Linked DNA regions of Homo sapiens: region 2 is linked to region 1. A link means that fine-mapping ties the variant in region 1 to the expression of a gene that starts in the linked region. Tissue or cell type: regulatory T cells. Region 1 holds a variant in brackets; the other region holds the start of a gene. All regions are shown on one strand. Distances are from middle to middle.

Region 1 (8,084 bases):
TAATTGGGCTAAAAGAAAAGCAAGTTTCTGGTATTTAATGAGGTACTTTCTGGTTCAGGTGTCTTTTTTGTATCAAGGGTAACTTGGAATCCCAGTAGAGCATCTTGGTTGTAACCTATACTGGAAATATGTCTAGGAACTGCTAAAGGGGTGGAAGAGAAGGCCTATGTGTATTTAATCCTGTGAAAAGCACTAATTGCCCAGAATCCTAGACATACTGATTTGATTGTGTTACAGTATGTGTTAACTGTATCTCATCTCTGCAAGATGAGAGCTGAAGATGTGTGTGCAGAGGAGCAAGGGAAGAGGCTTAAGTCTCTACACCAATCCAAAGTCTGTTAGCTATTGCATATCTTGGCAGATAATGGGGAGGAGAGATGTCTAATAATTTGGGGTATTGGTCCTCCAAGGCAGAGAAAGTTGGAGAGATGGAATGCACCTTTGACTAGCCGGTAATCTAACTACTTCTTTCTCTCTTCCAGCCTCTTTCAAGTGGGCTTTATCACTATTATATCATGGAATTGGCCTTCTATTGGTCCCTTATGTTTTCTCAGTTTACAGACATTAAAAGAAAGGTAAGGACGTTGGCTCCCTCAATTCCCCAACTTATTACATCCTCCTTTCTAGCAGCTTCCATGACTGCCATTACGATGTATTATCTTCCCTGAGACTGCAAAAGGAGAAACTGGGTTTGATGGACTCTTAGCTTGTCGTAATGTTCCCAGAAATGAGACTGAATTAATGATGAAGTATATTTAAGACATTCAGGGAAGCCCCAGGATGAGAACAATTAACCAGCTAAGAAGCATACTTTTTTCCATATTCTTCTTTAAGCTTCTTACATATCTAAAGCTCAGGAAACTAGTCAGAATTGGGGGATAGCAATGCCTTATTCAGAAAAAATGTCTGATTCCAGAAAAGCTGGATATGGCTTTCACATGGCATTAGGGACCCTTGCTCTCTCTGTTCTCCCTTTCTGGTTACCCCACTTACTCAAAGAAAGTCAATTGGAAGGGGTTTTGCTCTCTTCCTGCTATTGTTTAGGAAGCAAAGATTGAGAGAAGTGAGCTGACTTGCCCAGATAGTGACAGAGTTGGAAATGACTTAAGTTTTACACAACTTAAGTCATTTAAAGGCAGAATCTTTACCTTTTTATTAGTGTCTACCTGAAATAATGTGGTTCTAGCAGCTCTAACCCTAATCTGTCACTAACTCAGGGTTATCTTTGATGAAGAAAACCAGGGTTAGCATTTATGGGAATGAATTAAAACTTACCCAGGTTGTTAGTGTTATCTAACATAGAAACTTGATACTCAATTTTTATGCCTTTTACTCTCCTATGGTCAGAAGACACAGGTCACTTTATTAAAATTTTATTTTAATTGTGATACATATAAGAAAGTTTGAAATACATATTTAAGTTTTAAAAATAATAAACTGAGAAGTATTTAATAGATGTGTCTGATAACTCAAGTATTTAGAGACTTCCCCAGGTCTAACTTGACATTTGAACCCAAGAGGAAATTAGAGCCACAAACCTCTCCCTTCCATTAGGTCCTTGTGGTTGACGTTTCTCTCATTAAAGCAGAAGAGTCATAGAATCTCAGGGAACTCTAAGGCTTGTATGTCTTACTGGGATGTTATCCCCAAGTGTCAGCTTAGCATCCATGCTATACGTATTCTGCAGTTACCAAAGGAAATTTTTACTTTCTGGCCTCTGAGCTGCATTAACATAGAGTATGGGTCAGTCACTGATGTAGGGAGTGTTCAGTTAAATGCTAGGTAGCCAAGGGAGAGTCTAAGCAGAATGGAAACTTTTTTTTTTTTTTTGAGACGGAATCTCAGTCTGTCGCCCAGGCTGGAGTGCAGTGGCGCGATCTCAGCTCACTGCAACCTCTACCTCCCAGGTTTGAGCAATTCTCCTGCCTCAGCCTCCCGAGTAGCTGGGATTACAGGCACATGCCACCAAGCCCGGCTTATTTTTGTATTTTTAGTAGAGACGGGGCTTCCCCATGTTGGCCAGGCTGGTCTCGAACTCCTGACCTCAGGTGATCCGACCACCTTGCCCTCCCAAAGTGCTGGGATTACAGGCATGAGCCACCTCGCCCGGCCAATGGAAACTATTCTATATGGGGTGGGGTAAGATTCTTAGAGAATAATGCAGGACGTTGGGTTGGCTGGTGTTTCTAGGGCCCAGCTTTTACCTCCCTCTTCTATTTCCATTCCTTCCTAGGACTTCCTGATCATGTTTGTGCATCACTTGGTCACCATTGGGCTTATCTCCTTCTCCTACATCAACAATATGGTTCGAGTGGGAACTCTGATCATGTGTCTACATGATGTCTCAGACTTCTTGCTGGAGGTAAAAACCCAATCTCTCTTTCTCCATCTTCTTCTTCTCTTCTTTTCTTCCTATGTGAGGAATGACTTTCTCCCCAGCTCAATTCTTTCTTCCTTTCTCCAGGCAGCCAAACTGGCCAATTATGCCAAGTATCAGCGGCTCTGTGACACCCTTTTTGTGATCTTCAGTGCTGTTTTTATGGTTACACGACTAGGAATCTATCCATTCTGGTAAGTGGTAGGGCTGTAGAGTTGTGGTAGGTATGAGCCTAATGATACCTTTTTGCCAATTCTCATTTTGCCCATTCAGTTTTTCTGTTCTATTCTATTCTACTTTCGCCAATAGAACACAAGAACCCTATTGCCCTGCTTTTACCTTAGCCTGTGCTGACCTTCTGTGGACTCTCATAGGACCTCTGCTGCCTCAGACCGTATTTCTAGCAAGGTCGGATCCAGACTCAGAGTACCCGGCTTGGTTGGCTTCTCAGGACTGACTCATCTCTGAGGAACAGTCCTCATTTTATGCCTAAGTAATTCCTTTGACTTCTTTTGCACTGTTGATACAATTCTCAGTCCCTTCTTGCTTGTGTTCCTGCTCTGGTCCCAACCCTGACACACACACACACACACACACACACACACACACACACACACTCCTCTCTCTCTCTTCCTCCCTCTCCTCTCTCTCCCTCCCTCCCCTCTCTCCCTCCCTCCTCTCTCTCTCCCTCCCTGTCCTCCTCTCTCTCCCTCCCTCTCCTCTCTCTCTCTTCCTCCCTCTCCTCTCTCTCCCTCCCTCCCCTCTCTCTCCCTCCCTCCTCTCTCTCTCCCTCCCTCTCCTCTCTCTCCCTCCCTCCCTCTCCTCTCTCTCCCTGTCTCCTTTCACTTTTACATTCACTGCTCTATGGGAATCAGCTACCTACTGTCCTATCCTATATGTGCCTGAGGAGCTCAGTCATTCATAGGATTAGAGTCCCACTGCTGTCCTAATTTCGTGAAACTCTGGATATTTGAAGTGATTAATAATGTGACTTAATCCATCAGTTCCTAAGATTTATATATCTTTCTCTGTCCCTAAGGATAGAAAACACAACAGGCTCCTCCCTTTCTTTATTTTCTTACTGTGGATGACGGTCCCTGGAACTTCAGCTGATAAAAGGGCTGGTAGGAAAACACACAGGGCTCTGCATCCCCAGGACTCAGCTTCATCCCTGTCTGCTGAGCTTTGACTCTAGAATCTGACTATTGGCCTCCCTCTTCTAGGATTCTGAACACGACCCTCTTTGAGAGTTGGGAGATAATCGGGCCTTATGCTTCATGGTGGCTCCTCAATGGCCTGCTGCTGACCCTACAGCTTCTGCATGTCATCTGGTCCTACCTAATTGCACGGATTGCTTTGAAAGCCTTGATCAGGGGAAAGGTGAGGATGAAAGATGGCTTCTTTCTTTTGGGTATGGAAGATAGGGATTACTCAACAGACGTTCTCTCTCCATCAAACCTGGTGAGCCCCATCTACTCAAGCAGGCCAAGCAAAAAGCCTAGGGCTCCAAAGTCTTCGCCTCTTCGGTAAGTGTTTTGCCTTTTTTATTTTAGAGACAAGGTCTTGCTCTGTCACCCAGGCTGGAGTTCAGTGGCATGATCATAGCTTACTGCAGCCTCACACCTGGGCTTGGATTCTCCCACTGCAGCCTCCCAAGTAGCTGGGACTATAGGTGTGCACCACCACGCCTGGCTAATTTTCTTATTTTTTGTAGATAGGGTGTCACTATGTTACCCAGGCCAATGTCCAACTACTGGCCTCAAGCAGTCCTCCCACCACGGCTTCCCAAAGCGATGGAATTACAGGTGTGAGCCACCACACCAAGCCTGTTTTACCTTTTTTTTTTTTTTTTTT[C/TTTTTC]AGATGGAATCTCGCTCTGTTGCCCAGGCTGGAGTGCAATGTCACGATCTTGGCTCACCACAACCTCCACCTCCTGGGTTCAAGCGATTCTCCTGCCTCAGCCTCCCTAGTAGCTGGGATTACAGGCGCATGCCACCAGGCCTGGCTAATTTTTGTATTCTTAGTAGAAACGGGGTTTCACTATGTTGGCCAGGCTGGTCTCTAACTCCCGACCTTGTGATCTGCCCACCTTGGCCTCCCGAAGTGCTGGGATTACAGGCGTGAGCCACCGCACCTGGCCTGCCTGTTTTACCTTTTAAGATGTGACTTAGACGCAAGAGGAAAGTTCTACCTTCTTCCTGTCCCTTAGGAATGGCTTTTGTTAAAGGATGATAGGGTTAAGAGTTTTTTAAGAGATGGCCTCAACCATTTCCTACCCCTTACCTACCTGCTTCAGTGGATTTCATATTTTTCTTTTTGACATGGGGCCCTTTTCAAAGGAAATCATATGCAGAACCATATAAACTGTATAAAAGCAGATTGTTAAGTTGCCTAGAAGTGGTGTGTGGTAGTTCACAAGCCACCACAAGGTGACCATGCTGTGATATTCAAGATATGGTTTATATAAGGAACTAAATACCCACCTCACCCCACTAGTGTATGAGGCAAGTGTCCTAAGTGAATGGGTATGTAGTGTTTCAAATACCCATCTTATGCCAAGAGCGAAAGAAAGGTGCCACTTAATGATAAACTCATAATTGAACTTTGCAAGTTTTGAAGCAGTCAGACTGTAGTCAAAGGGCTAGGGATTTCAGCCTAAAGGAATACAGAATCCCAAGTGGGAGGGGCTCTGCTTGAGCAGGTACTGATACTAGGACCAAGTGATGGAATGTGGCCTAGATATTGATGATCTCCTGCATCATTATTCCTTATAGCTGCCATTGGCTCAGAACTTGCTCAGTGTGCCTGTGCATCTTGCTGTAGCTACTGGACATCTCTGTTCTCTCCTGCTTTTCTTTCCTGACTAGGTGACCTGTCCAGGAAGGATTAGACCCTGTACTCTCCACTCTTTCCTCACCTCCTTCCTTTTTTCTATGCCTGGCGGGAGCTGGACAGTTTCATCTCTTGCATGTAAGTGTATCTGTGCTTCTAGTATTCAGTGAGGCATGTCCATCTGAATGTGGTTCTCTTTCCTCCTGCTCTCCTTTCTGTTCCCTTGTGTTTGTCTCAGAGCATGCCCTCTCTCCTGACTTTTCGGGGCCATTATTGACTAGAGCTGCAGTTGCCAGATTTTTTCCTAAACTGAGGCAAGAATTGAGTCTACTTTTTTTTGTTTTTCTTGAGTCTCTGTTTACCTCAAATCTAGAGACACTCTGCCCTCTAGTGGAAATTTCCTAAAGGTCAGGTAATCAGTTAGTCATCTAAGTTCAGAGGCCAACAGCTATAATCAACTGTAGAAGACCCATCCAACACAAATTCAAGGAGCTGATCCAAAGCAAATGCCCACCTCCTTGGCAACAGTTGTTACAGCTGTGTTCCTTTTCACTTCCTTCTCTCCTTTACTTAAACCACATTTATTATCCTTCAGTTCTGGAGGTCAGAAGTCCGACACAGGTCTCACTGGATTTCTGTTCTTTACTATTAGAGTCCAGGGTAATTTTTTTTTTTTAATTTTTATTTATTTATTTTTGAGACAGAGTTTAGCTCTTGTTGCCCAGGCTGGAGTGCAATGGCGTGATCTTGGCTCACTGCAACCTCTGCCTGCCCAGTTCAAGCGAGTCTCCTGCCTCAGCCTCCTGAGTAGCTGGGATTACAGGCATACGCCACCACGCCTGGCTAATTTTTTTGTATTTTTAGTAGAGACGGGGTTTCTTCATGTTGGTCTGGCTGGTCTCGAACTCCCGACCTCAGGTGATGCGCCCACTTCAGCCTCCCAAAGTGCTGGGATTACAGGCGTAAGCCACCATGCTCGGCCCTTTTTTTTTTTAGAGACAAGGTTTTGCTCCATTGCCCAGGCTGGAGTACAGTGGCGCAATCATGGCTCACTGCAGCCTCGACCTCCTGGGCTCAAGAGATGCTCCTGCCTCAGCCTCCCAAGTAGCTAGGACTACAGGTGCATGTCACCATGCCCAACTGATTTTGTCATTTTTTATTTTTTGTAGAGACAGGGCTCTCTCCATGTTGCCCAGGCTGGTCTCAAACTCTTGGGCTCAAGCTGTCCTCCTCCCTCAGCCTCCCAAAGTGCTAGGATTATAGGTGTAAGCCACTGTGCCTGGCTCATGGTGGAGAAATTGAAATACTTTGCTTGATATGCAGGATAGTTTAGATTAGGAAATGCTGCTGTAATCCAAATGCTTCATTTGAAAATAATACAAAACAAAAAAACCCAGGTTAATAAGCATTCACAGATGGTAGCATGATTAGAACTGGGATTCTTTTCTCATTGACTGCCAATCCATTTGTGTTTTCACTATACTGTGTATCTTGGGGATGCTGAAGTTTCTTTTTTTTTTTCTTTTTTTTTTTTTTTTTTTGAGATGGAGTCTCACTCTGTCGCCCACGCTGGAGTGCAGTGGCACGATCTCAGCTCACTGCAACCTCCACCTCCGGGGTTCAAGAGATTCTCCTGCCTCAGCCTCCTGAGTAGCTGGGATTACAGGTGCGCGCCACCACACCCGGCTAATTTTTGTATTTTTAGTAGAGACAGGGTTTCTCCATGTTGCTCAGGCTGGTCTCAAACTCCTGACCTTGTGATCCGCCTGCCTCGGCCTCCCAAAGTGCTGGGATTACAGGCGTGAGCCACCACGCCCAGCCAGGGATGCTGAAGTTTCATAAGAAAAGTGATCTTGCTATTGGGAAAGGGAAGAAGATTGGAAAACAGTGTCATAGGATAGTGGTAGTTGAGCCCAGGAGTGGGAAACTACTAAAAAAGGCCTGTTATGGATCAGCTTTGGGGATAAAGCAAAACAGCATAACCAATACGAATAAATGCATTGTCCACAACCACCAGAAGATAGAAGCATTGCTGACAGTCATACGTATTGTTCGTGTTGGCCTTCCCTGTTCTTTGAAGTGGAAGAAGAGAAAGGGTGTCTGAAACCTAAACCAGGTCTCAGTGAATGATGTCAGTTCTCTTAGGCTGGTCCTGAAAGACACACTCCTCTACCAAAGTAGCTTCAATTCCACAGAGAACAGAATTGGAGATGACAAGGGAGAAAACTAGAAAGCAGGTAAAGCATAGTCACAACAGTAGCCATAGTCCAGACAATACTTCTTTGAGTTAGATGTCATCAGAAAGCAGACCAGACTGGGAACACAGTGCCCACACCTGGGTCTCTGAGCTTAGGTGTCTTACAGTTCTTTCCTCACTTTTCTGTCTTTGGTCTCATCCCACCCAGGTATCGAAGGATGATCGCAGTGATGTGGAGAGCAGCTCAGAGGAAGAAGATGTGACCACCTGCACAAAAAGTCCCTGTGACAGTAGCTCCAGCAATGGTGCCAATCGGGTGAATGGTCACATGGGAGGCAGCTACTGGGCTGAAGAGTAAGGTGGTTGCTATAGGGACTTCAGCACACATGGACTTGTAGGGCCACTGGCAACATACTCCTCTTGGCCCTTCCCATATCTACTCTTCTGTGATTGGGAGACTGCAAGGCACTGAGGAGTATCAAAGAAGCAAATATTTTCACTTTGAAAGAAAACTGCCATTTTGTATTTAATAGCCTCCAGGTTCTTTCAGTAATGTTATTTGCTCTGTGTGTTTTTGTGTGTTTGTTGATGTGCGTTTGTGCATATGCGTGAGTTTCATTGCCGGGGTTGGGGCACAATTGTGGACTGGGGCCATGAGGCCTTCCCTGGTCCCCACTGAACCCA
Region 2 (8,088 bases), 77 kb after region 1:
TGGGAGGTCTTGCACAGCTAGAAACACTAAGCATGACTATGGTGCCATCCTTTCTGCACAAATACAGTTCATATTCCCATACTGCAGGAGGAAGCAAGCAAGCGGGGAGAAAATAGGCAGGAAGAAGGAAGAGAATCCAAGAGCTGAGTAGGCATGGAGAGCAAAGGGTCCTGGAAAAGACTGGCAAGAATTTGAAGTGGACACAATAACCCCAGGGTCCACAATATTAATTAAAAGAGTAAAGGACATTTTCAGCTTAACAAGACATGAGTTCTAATCCTGAACCTGTCACCTGTCACTAACTGTGTGAGCTTGGGTAAATCATTCTGCCTGTGTCTCAGTTTCGTGCATTTGTAAAACAGAGGTAATGTGATTATGTATCAAGGGGATTGAGGGGAGCCTAGAAAGCATTTGAAAGAGTTACAAGCATTGTCCATTCATTTGGTGTTATTGTTCCTGCATGGCTCTGGAGCCTCTGGTCTCTTTGCCATCTGGGTCCAGGTCTTAACCCTCAGGAATCTGTGTGACTTGCCCAGGGTTGCCCAGCACATCAGATGCCAAAATCAGTTTCCCTATGCCCTCCCTGAGGTGCTGGCCTGAGGCAGCCACATCTGTGGGGCATCTCCATTTTAAGATGCAAAGGAAGCCTCCAGGGCAGCCATGACTGGGTGTCCCGATGGCCTTCCTTTCCTCAGATCCTGGCTCTGCGGCTCTTGCCGGCAAGCAGGAAACCTAACCAAACAGTGTATGTGTCTATGTATGGGGTGCGGATGGCACACAGGGAGTTACTGTCTGGCTATTTAAGAGAAGGTTTCCCTTACTTGTGCTTCACGGTGCTTCTCAAACTTTAGTGTATACTCCAGTCACCTGAGGATCTTATTAGATGGAGATTCTGGTTCAGTAGGTTTGGGAAGTGGGGTGGCAAAGTCCTGCATTCCTTTCAAGCTCCCAGTTGATGGTCCTGGACCTCACTACAAGTAACACGGCTGTAGCTTACCCACCTGTCTGCTCAGCTCTGACACCTGTGGCCTAGAAGGTAAGCTTGGTGGGTTTGTGGCTATGCCAGACCACGCACGTGTGTGCATATATGTGTGTGTTGTGCACTGTAGGCTCTCTTTCCTGCCATCATGGCTGCAAGGCTGAGGCTCAGGTGCTCATGCAGTGAGTGCAAATGTGCCCCTATGCTGAACAAACTCCCCTTCTACTAGAAGCAAACCCCAGGACATACAACTTCCTCTCCCAGAGTAGCAAGCACCCGGAGAGGCCCAGCCTGCTCCTTGTCTCCTCCTCCTCCTCTGTGGGCCAGGCTGACTCACACCCCACACGAGGGGACTCACCACCTTGAAGTCTTCAGCGCTGCAGACCTCCCCCCGGAAGTGGCAGGAGAGCAGCATGTCTCGAATGTCGTGCCCAGCTCGGTCGTAGAACTCACGCATGTTGAAGGGTTTGGGTTTGAAGCTGCGGAAGTTGGCTTTGTCCTGCAGTATCTCCAGCTGCTTTTCATCTGCCATCTGTGTGTCTGGTATCTCATACCTGGGGTCCGGGGGTGAGTGACACACGGGTCAGTACAGTCATCAGTGTCCTGCACCCAACTTGGGTGATGGGGGCAGCCTCCAGCCCTGGGGATCAGTCCCAGGTGTAGGCAAGGAAGGAGAGCTGGGCATGCAGAGGCTCTACCACATGGGTCTGAAATGACAGGAGGAACTGTAGTGGCTGCCCAGGGGCAGGGCATCCCATCCCAGCACATGGGTGAGAGGAAGCATGGATAAGGTGGGCAGAGAGACAAGGCAGGGGCTGTGGCTTTTATACTGTAGTTTCTACCCTTTAAAGATGTTCTGTCCCCATCCCCCAACTGACGAGAAGGTCAAGACAGAGTGGCCAGAATGAAGGTAAAGCTCACTCCAGAGAGGGTGACAATGTCTCATACCTCAGGCTGGGTGGGGGTCGAGCTGTTCTGGACTATGCTGGGATCGGAGGCTGGGTGCCCTTAACTGGGTGCTCAGCAGCACCCTAACTCCTCTGCTGTGAGTGGCAGGTTTGGGGGTGGGGGTGGGTTAAAGGGCAGGGTTGGCTGGGCTCTATGGTGGGTCAGGGAGGCAGACATCCTGACTGGAACTCAAGCAACTCCAGGAGCAGGGCTGAGGGAGGGTGGGAGCCACCCACCTGTTGTTGAGCAGGGCCAGCAGCTCCCCAGCATGATACAGGTCATTCTTGGAGACTTGGCTAAAGCGGAACTCGTTGAGGTTGCACAGCGTGACAGCAGGGAAGGTAAGCTGAGAGGCAGCCACCTCGTCGAGCTTGGTGACATGGTGGTAGTGGAAGTAGTACTGCACACGCTCCGTGCACACACACAGCAGCACAGCCAGGGAGCCCAGGAAGCACAGGGCCCACAGTGCCCGCTTCAGAGACAGCCGCTCGTAGGAGAAGATGTGGGCCAGGCCGTGCAGTGTGGAGCTGCTGGCGAAGGCCTGGATGCTCACCGGCTGGACGCCACCCACCTCCTCCTCCTCGGCCTTCAGTTCCATCCTTGTTGAGGGGATCCTGGGGGAGGAGGGAGGGACAGTCTATCATTGTCCTGGGATGAAAGTACACATGGAGCCCCTCCACATGTGCCCATCCAGAATCCTCATCTCCAGAGGTCACCACTCCTCGGGCAGAAGACTTCCCTGCTTTGCAAGCCCAGAGGTGGCTGACCAAGGGACACATCCAGGGTTCCTCCAAATACAGAGGCACAGGGGGTCAGGTCAGGCCAAGAGAATGCTCCCCAGAGAAGCTTCCCAGGCCCGGGGAGACCCCAGATATAGTCATCCGAGGTTGAGGGGGAAGTCCTGATGCACCCATAGGCAGGCGCAGGAGTTCCCTCCAGATGTGGGGTCACTCTGGGACAAGAATATCCACCCCATCCTGGAGATGAAAACTCACCCAGATGGGCTGACCCCGGGGTAAGGAGCTCCTGTCCTGGTCACGGGTATTCCCTGGACGGGGCTGTGGTCCTAAGGGCTAAACTGGGGCCAGAAAACCCCCAGGGAGGTGGCTACATCTAGGGAGGGGCCCAGCCTGAGTCCTCACCTGCGGGTGTCTCCAGTTCTCACATAAGCGCAGGCTGTGTGTATGTTGGGAGTGGGGGGTGGCGGGCTGCCCGAGGTGGATGTATGGAGGGGGGGCGCGGTTCCCTATGACAGCGAGCTGTCCCCGCCCCGGACGCAGCCCCCCCCAGTCCAGCTTCTCGTCGCAGTCAGATCCCCAGCTCGGCCCCCGCCCCCCTCCCCAGCCACCGAGCCGCCCCAGCAGCAAGGGAAATCCAGAGGGAGGAGAGTCCCGGCTTCGGGGTACCGAGGAGCCTCGCGGCCAAAGGCAGGGGTATCGGAAACCCACCTGAGGGGGCTTCGGCAAGCCGGCAGCCGGCGGCGGGTCCTGGGGCGCTGGACCGGTGGCGGGCTCAGCGCCGAGTCGCGGAGGGGCTCATGGCCCGGGGCCGGAGCCCGCGGCCGCCGCGGCACGCCGCGCAGAGCCCTGCAGGGAGCGCCCCGCCCGGCCCCGCTCGGCTCCGATCTGTCCGCCCGCCCGCGCGCGCTGGCTCGCTGGCTCGCTCGCCTCGGCTCGGTCTGCCCGGGCTCGGCGCGGTGCGCGGTGCTCTCAGCCCTGGGATCTGCAGGGATCCATCGTCCGGCCGGGAGGCGGCGGGAGGGGAGGGGGAGGGGAGAGGGTGCGCGTGCGCGCCTACGAGTGTCTGCGAGGCTGTCTCTGGGCTGGTGTGCGCGCGGGGCCCCGGATCCGGGAGCGGGACCCAGGGCTCCCCGCGCCGCCTCGCCCCTCCTCGCGGCCGCTTTCGGCGGCGCTGCCTCTCTCCAGTCCCGGAGCCGTCTCCCTGCCTGCGAGGCCCTATGGCTTGTGTGTATGACTCTGTGTGTGGTGTGTGTGCGCGCGCGCGTGTGTGCGCGCAGGAGGGAGGGTGTCTGCCCCTAGCGTCCCTCTCCCCGCGCTGTCTCCTTCGGATCGATGCTCCTGCCTCTTGCTGCTGCTTCCTCTGGTGGCACACACGCGCGTACACACACACATACACACACACGCTCCGAGTCACACTTGACTAATTCAAGCACTTAGCCCATATGGAGACAGACACACATACCGACCAGAGTCACACCACACCATTCACAACCACACCCCCCCGCAACAGATGTCCACGTATCCCGGGGGCCTGACCCACATGGCAAGCACTCACCTGCTCTTATCCCTGCTCCCACCTGCATGTGACACATATACACGTGCACATATGTGAGCCAACACGCAGCCTTGACCACTCAGATCCCATCCTTGTAGCTTTGGGCTTGTGGGGGGCATGGTCGCAACCCCTTACTGCCAAATCTCCAAAGAAGGAGCAGAGAAAAGGAAGGAAAAATAGCCAGAGGTCAAGGGAATTTGGACAGAAGGAAGGAGGCAAAGGGAGTGAAGGGGACAGGGTGAGGAAGGGTTGGAACGGGGAGCTATGCTCAGGGATGGAGCAGAAGTCTCAGCACAGAACGCAGGCCTGGGGGCTGCTCCTGTGGCTCTCACCTTTCTCCTTCCCTGCCTCCCTCCTCTTCTCTGAGAGGCCTTGGGGAGGGGGGCCCTCCCTATCCAATTAACAGAGAAGGAGCAATCAAGGGGAAGTTGTTAATTTGCTGATGCTCATTAGGGGCTCTTAGCACAGAGGCTGTTGAGGTCTGATGGTGTCAGATGATGAGGAGGAGGGTGCGGGGGACCAGAGTTCTGTCTCTAGTGGCTCCTTCGCTCTACTTGCAGGCTGGTGCGGCTCGGGGAGAAGGATGGTGAGAGGTGTATTCCTAGGACATGGTGCCGGGCTTTAAGTTAGAAGAAAACCTGTAACGAGAAGGGGATGGCACATTGGAAAGAAGTTGGATGAGAAGTTGGGAGTAGTGGACATCTAGGAAACCAGAGAAGGGGTCTGGAGGTCCCTAGTGGGAGAGTGGACTTAAGATTGTGGAGGAGGGAGGTCGAGATCCATTTACTAGGGGACTGGACACGGAGCTGCCAAAAGGAAGGGAGGATCTTCCATTCAGGTCTTGGGGAGCTGTTCAGCGGTACCAGGCAGTGCTGGAGGGTTGCTATGCCCCCGGGCAGCCACTGGGTGGCAGCCCTCTCCCAGATACTTAGAATCAACTCGTGGGGGGCATTTGAGAGTGGGAAATCACCTGGGAGGGTCCCAGAGACCTGAGGAAGCATCAGGCAGAGTCTGATTCCTGAATTCCAAATATCCTCAGGGGGAGGGGAACACTATTTTGGAGCATCTGTAATTTCCCCACCTCCCCGCGGCTCGCAGGCTGACTGACACGTGGAGCCTCTTCAAATGGCTGCAATTGCTTCAGTCACCTGGGATGTTACTGAGGGAGCAGCGGGGGTGGAGGGAAGGTGATGAGGTGAGGTGGAGGCAGGCGAGGACTGATTGAGGCCAAGGAGCAGCCTCAGGAGGAGTCTGGGGGAAGACAGAAGGTATGAATCAGGAGAATCAGCTTCCAGACCTGGCCCTGCCATTCATTAGCATAGGCAGGCCCCTTGACCTCTCTGGACCTCGGTTTCCTCATCTGTAAGGCAGAGATAATATTTATTTCACAGGATTTTTCGAGGATTACATGAGCTAACGCATGGAAAGTGCTTAGTACATTGGCATGTACCTAGTAAATCCCAATAAGTAAATAACTATTATTAGTATTAGCATTTGGATCTAGTGGTAAAACCACCAGTGCAGCCAAACCAGGGCAGAATCTAAGGCACTGGTTCTTAACCCAGGCTGCACATTCGAATCACCTGGGGAGCTTTTAAAACTGCAATGCCAGCTGGGCGCGGTGGCTCACTCCTGTAATCCCAGCACTTTGGGAGGCAGAGGAGGGTGGATCGCCTGAGGTCAGGAGTTTGAGACCAACCTGGCCAACATGGTGAAACCCATCTCTACTAAAAATACAAAAAGTAGCTGGGCGTGGTGGCGGGCACCTGTAATCCCAGCTACTCGAGAGGCTGAGGCAGGAGAATCATTTGAACCTGGGAGGCGGAGGTTGCAGTGAGCCGAGATTGTGCTATTGCACTCTAGCCGGGGAGACAAGAGCGAAACTCCATTTCAAAAAATAAAAATAATAAGATAAAACTGCAATGCCAGCCAGGCGTGGTGGCTCACGCCTGCAATCCCAGCACTTTGGGAGGCCGAGGTGAGTGGATCACCTGAGGTCAGGAGACCAACCTGGCCAACATGGTGAAACCCTGCCTCCACAGAAAATACAAAAATTAGCCAGGCGTGGTGGCACGCACCTGTAATCCCAGCTACTCAGGAGGCTGAGGCAGAAGTGCTTGAACCCGGGAGACAGAGGTTGCAGTGATCGGAGATCGTGCCACTGCACTCTAGCCTGGGCAACAGAGCGAGACTCTGTCTCAGAAAAAAAAAAAAAAAACTGCAATGCCATGGCTCCACTTTAGACCAGTTAAATCAGAATCTCTGGGGCTGTGGCGCGATCTTGGCTCACTGCAAGCTCAGTCTCCTGGGTTCACGCCATTCTCCTGCCTCAGCCTCCCAAGTAGCTGGGACTACAGGCACCCGCCACTACACCTGGCAAAGTTTTTTGTATTTTTAGTAGAGACGGGGTTTCACCGTGTTAGCCAGGATGGTCTCAATCTCCTGACCTTGTGATCCACCCGTCTCAGCCTCCCAAAGTGCTGGGATTATAGGCGTGAGCCACCATACCCGGCCTTTTTTTTTTTTTTTTTTTTTAAGTTGGGGTCTCACCCTGTCGCCCAGGCTGGAGTGCAATGGCACAATCTCGGCTCACTGCAACCTCCGCCTCCCCGGTTCAAGAGGTTCTTCTGCCTCAGCCTCCCGAGTAGCTGGGATTACAGGCGCACACCACGACGCCCGGCTAATTTTTTGTATCTTTTGTAGAGCTGGGGGTTTCACCATGTAGGCTTGAACTCCCGACCTCAGGTGATCCACCCACCTTGGCCTCCCAAAGTGCTGGGATTACAGGCATGAGCCACTGCGCCCGGACAATCGCCCAACTTTTTGAGGCCTTTAACATATAGCCAATCTTGAGCAACCTTGCTCTTCAGAACTTATGGGTCTGAATTATGGTTTCATAGTGTCACAGGCCCCAGTCTTAGGAAGTTCTTTCTTATATACAACCTAAATCCCTCATGCTGTTGTTTCTTCTTCGTTTGAGAAGTGATGGGTCCTTGCACACACACATCCCCTCATCCCTACCCTGTACATCGCAGCAAACCTTCACCGAGGGTTTTCCTGGATCAAGCCCCAAGATTGGCCCTGTGGACATGGTGAGGATTGGCAGAGTCCTTGCCTCAAAATATCCCAGTGTGGAAAGAGAGACAAACATGTTGACTTGTGACTCTAGTGCAAGGGCCAGGAGTGAAATAGAAGGCTGAGCCAGGGCTGCCAGCAGAGAGAGGCAGGGGGGCAGTCACTCTGACAGGGGTTTGTGGGACAAGGATGAGGAAAAGAGGAAGTTGGTGTTGGCAGGGCCTTAGTAAGATAACACTTGAGGGATCCAAGGGCTGTGATTAGTGTCTCATTACTTCTTTCTGCTTCTCTGGCCCACCCACCCCTTGTCCAAGTCCTGACAGAGGATACTGGCTCCTTCAGCATCCTCCCAGCTTCTTCTCCATGCTTCGTTTTCTCTGGACCCTGCAGTCCTTAGACCTCAGTACCCTTTATCCCCACCACGGACTGAGAGGGAAACAGGCCTGAAGATATTTCTCCTTCTGCTGGCAGGAGGCATCTAGCCAGGGCCCACTTAGGACTTTGGCCTTGTGCTCACCTAGGTTCAAATCTCAGCTCTGTCACACCAGTGCTGTGTGGCCCTGGGCAAGTAACCTAGCCTGAGTCTCACTTTTCTCCAGAAACCATAAAACCCAGCTAATGCCCATGCTGTTGAAACAATGTGTGTCTAGCAAACAGTAGGGGGTGTTCCATCAATAGTGGCAAGCATTATGATCATCCCTGAAAGGCTGATGGGGGCAAATTCCCCATGGATGCTTCCCTTGCAGATGGCCCCATCTGCTTTAGGTGCAGAAGCGCCCTCCAGCCTCTCA

Direction of the effects. Positions count from the first base shown, and alleles are read on the strand shown. Sizes are in standard deviations (SD) of each study's normalised expression.
In carriers of allele TTTTTC in region 1, the expression in regulatory T cells of the gene that starts at base 3,696 in region 2 tends to be lower than with C alone (large effect, 1.9 SD a copy in Schmiedel 2018).

The links. PIP is the estimated chance that this variant, and not a neighbour inherited with it, causes the effect.
Region 2: it holds the start of ASIC1, and the variant in region 1 is fine-mapped to the expression of ASIC1 in regulatory T cells (Schmiedel 2018, PIP 0.95).

Annotation. Positions count from the first base shown.
Region 1 is chr12:50,130,219-50,138,302 of GRCh38, reverse strand. CERS5 (ceramide synthase 5) reads left to right here. Exons shown (of 10, transcript NM_147190.5): 6 at 483-575; 7 at 2,234-2,362; 8 at 2,465-2,571; 9 at 3,601-3,757; 10 at 7,609-8,084. The coding sequence ends at 7,758. Among named protein-coding and RNA genes, the nearest start is that of COX14, 22 kb to the right of the region's middle. The variant C/TTTTTC (reference allele first, on the strand shown) is at 4,232.
Region 2 is chr12:50,053,204-50,061,291 of GRCh38, reverse strand. It overlaps ASIC1 (acid sensing ion channel subunit 1), which reads right to left and starts at 3,696. Exons shown (of 12, transcript NM_001095.4): 1 at 3,376-3,696; 2 at 2,164-2,541; 3 at 1,338-1,533. The coding sequence starts at 2,525. RefSeq lists silencers at 3,494-3,663, 3,734-3,893.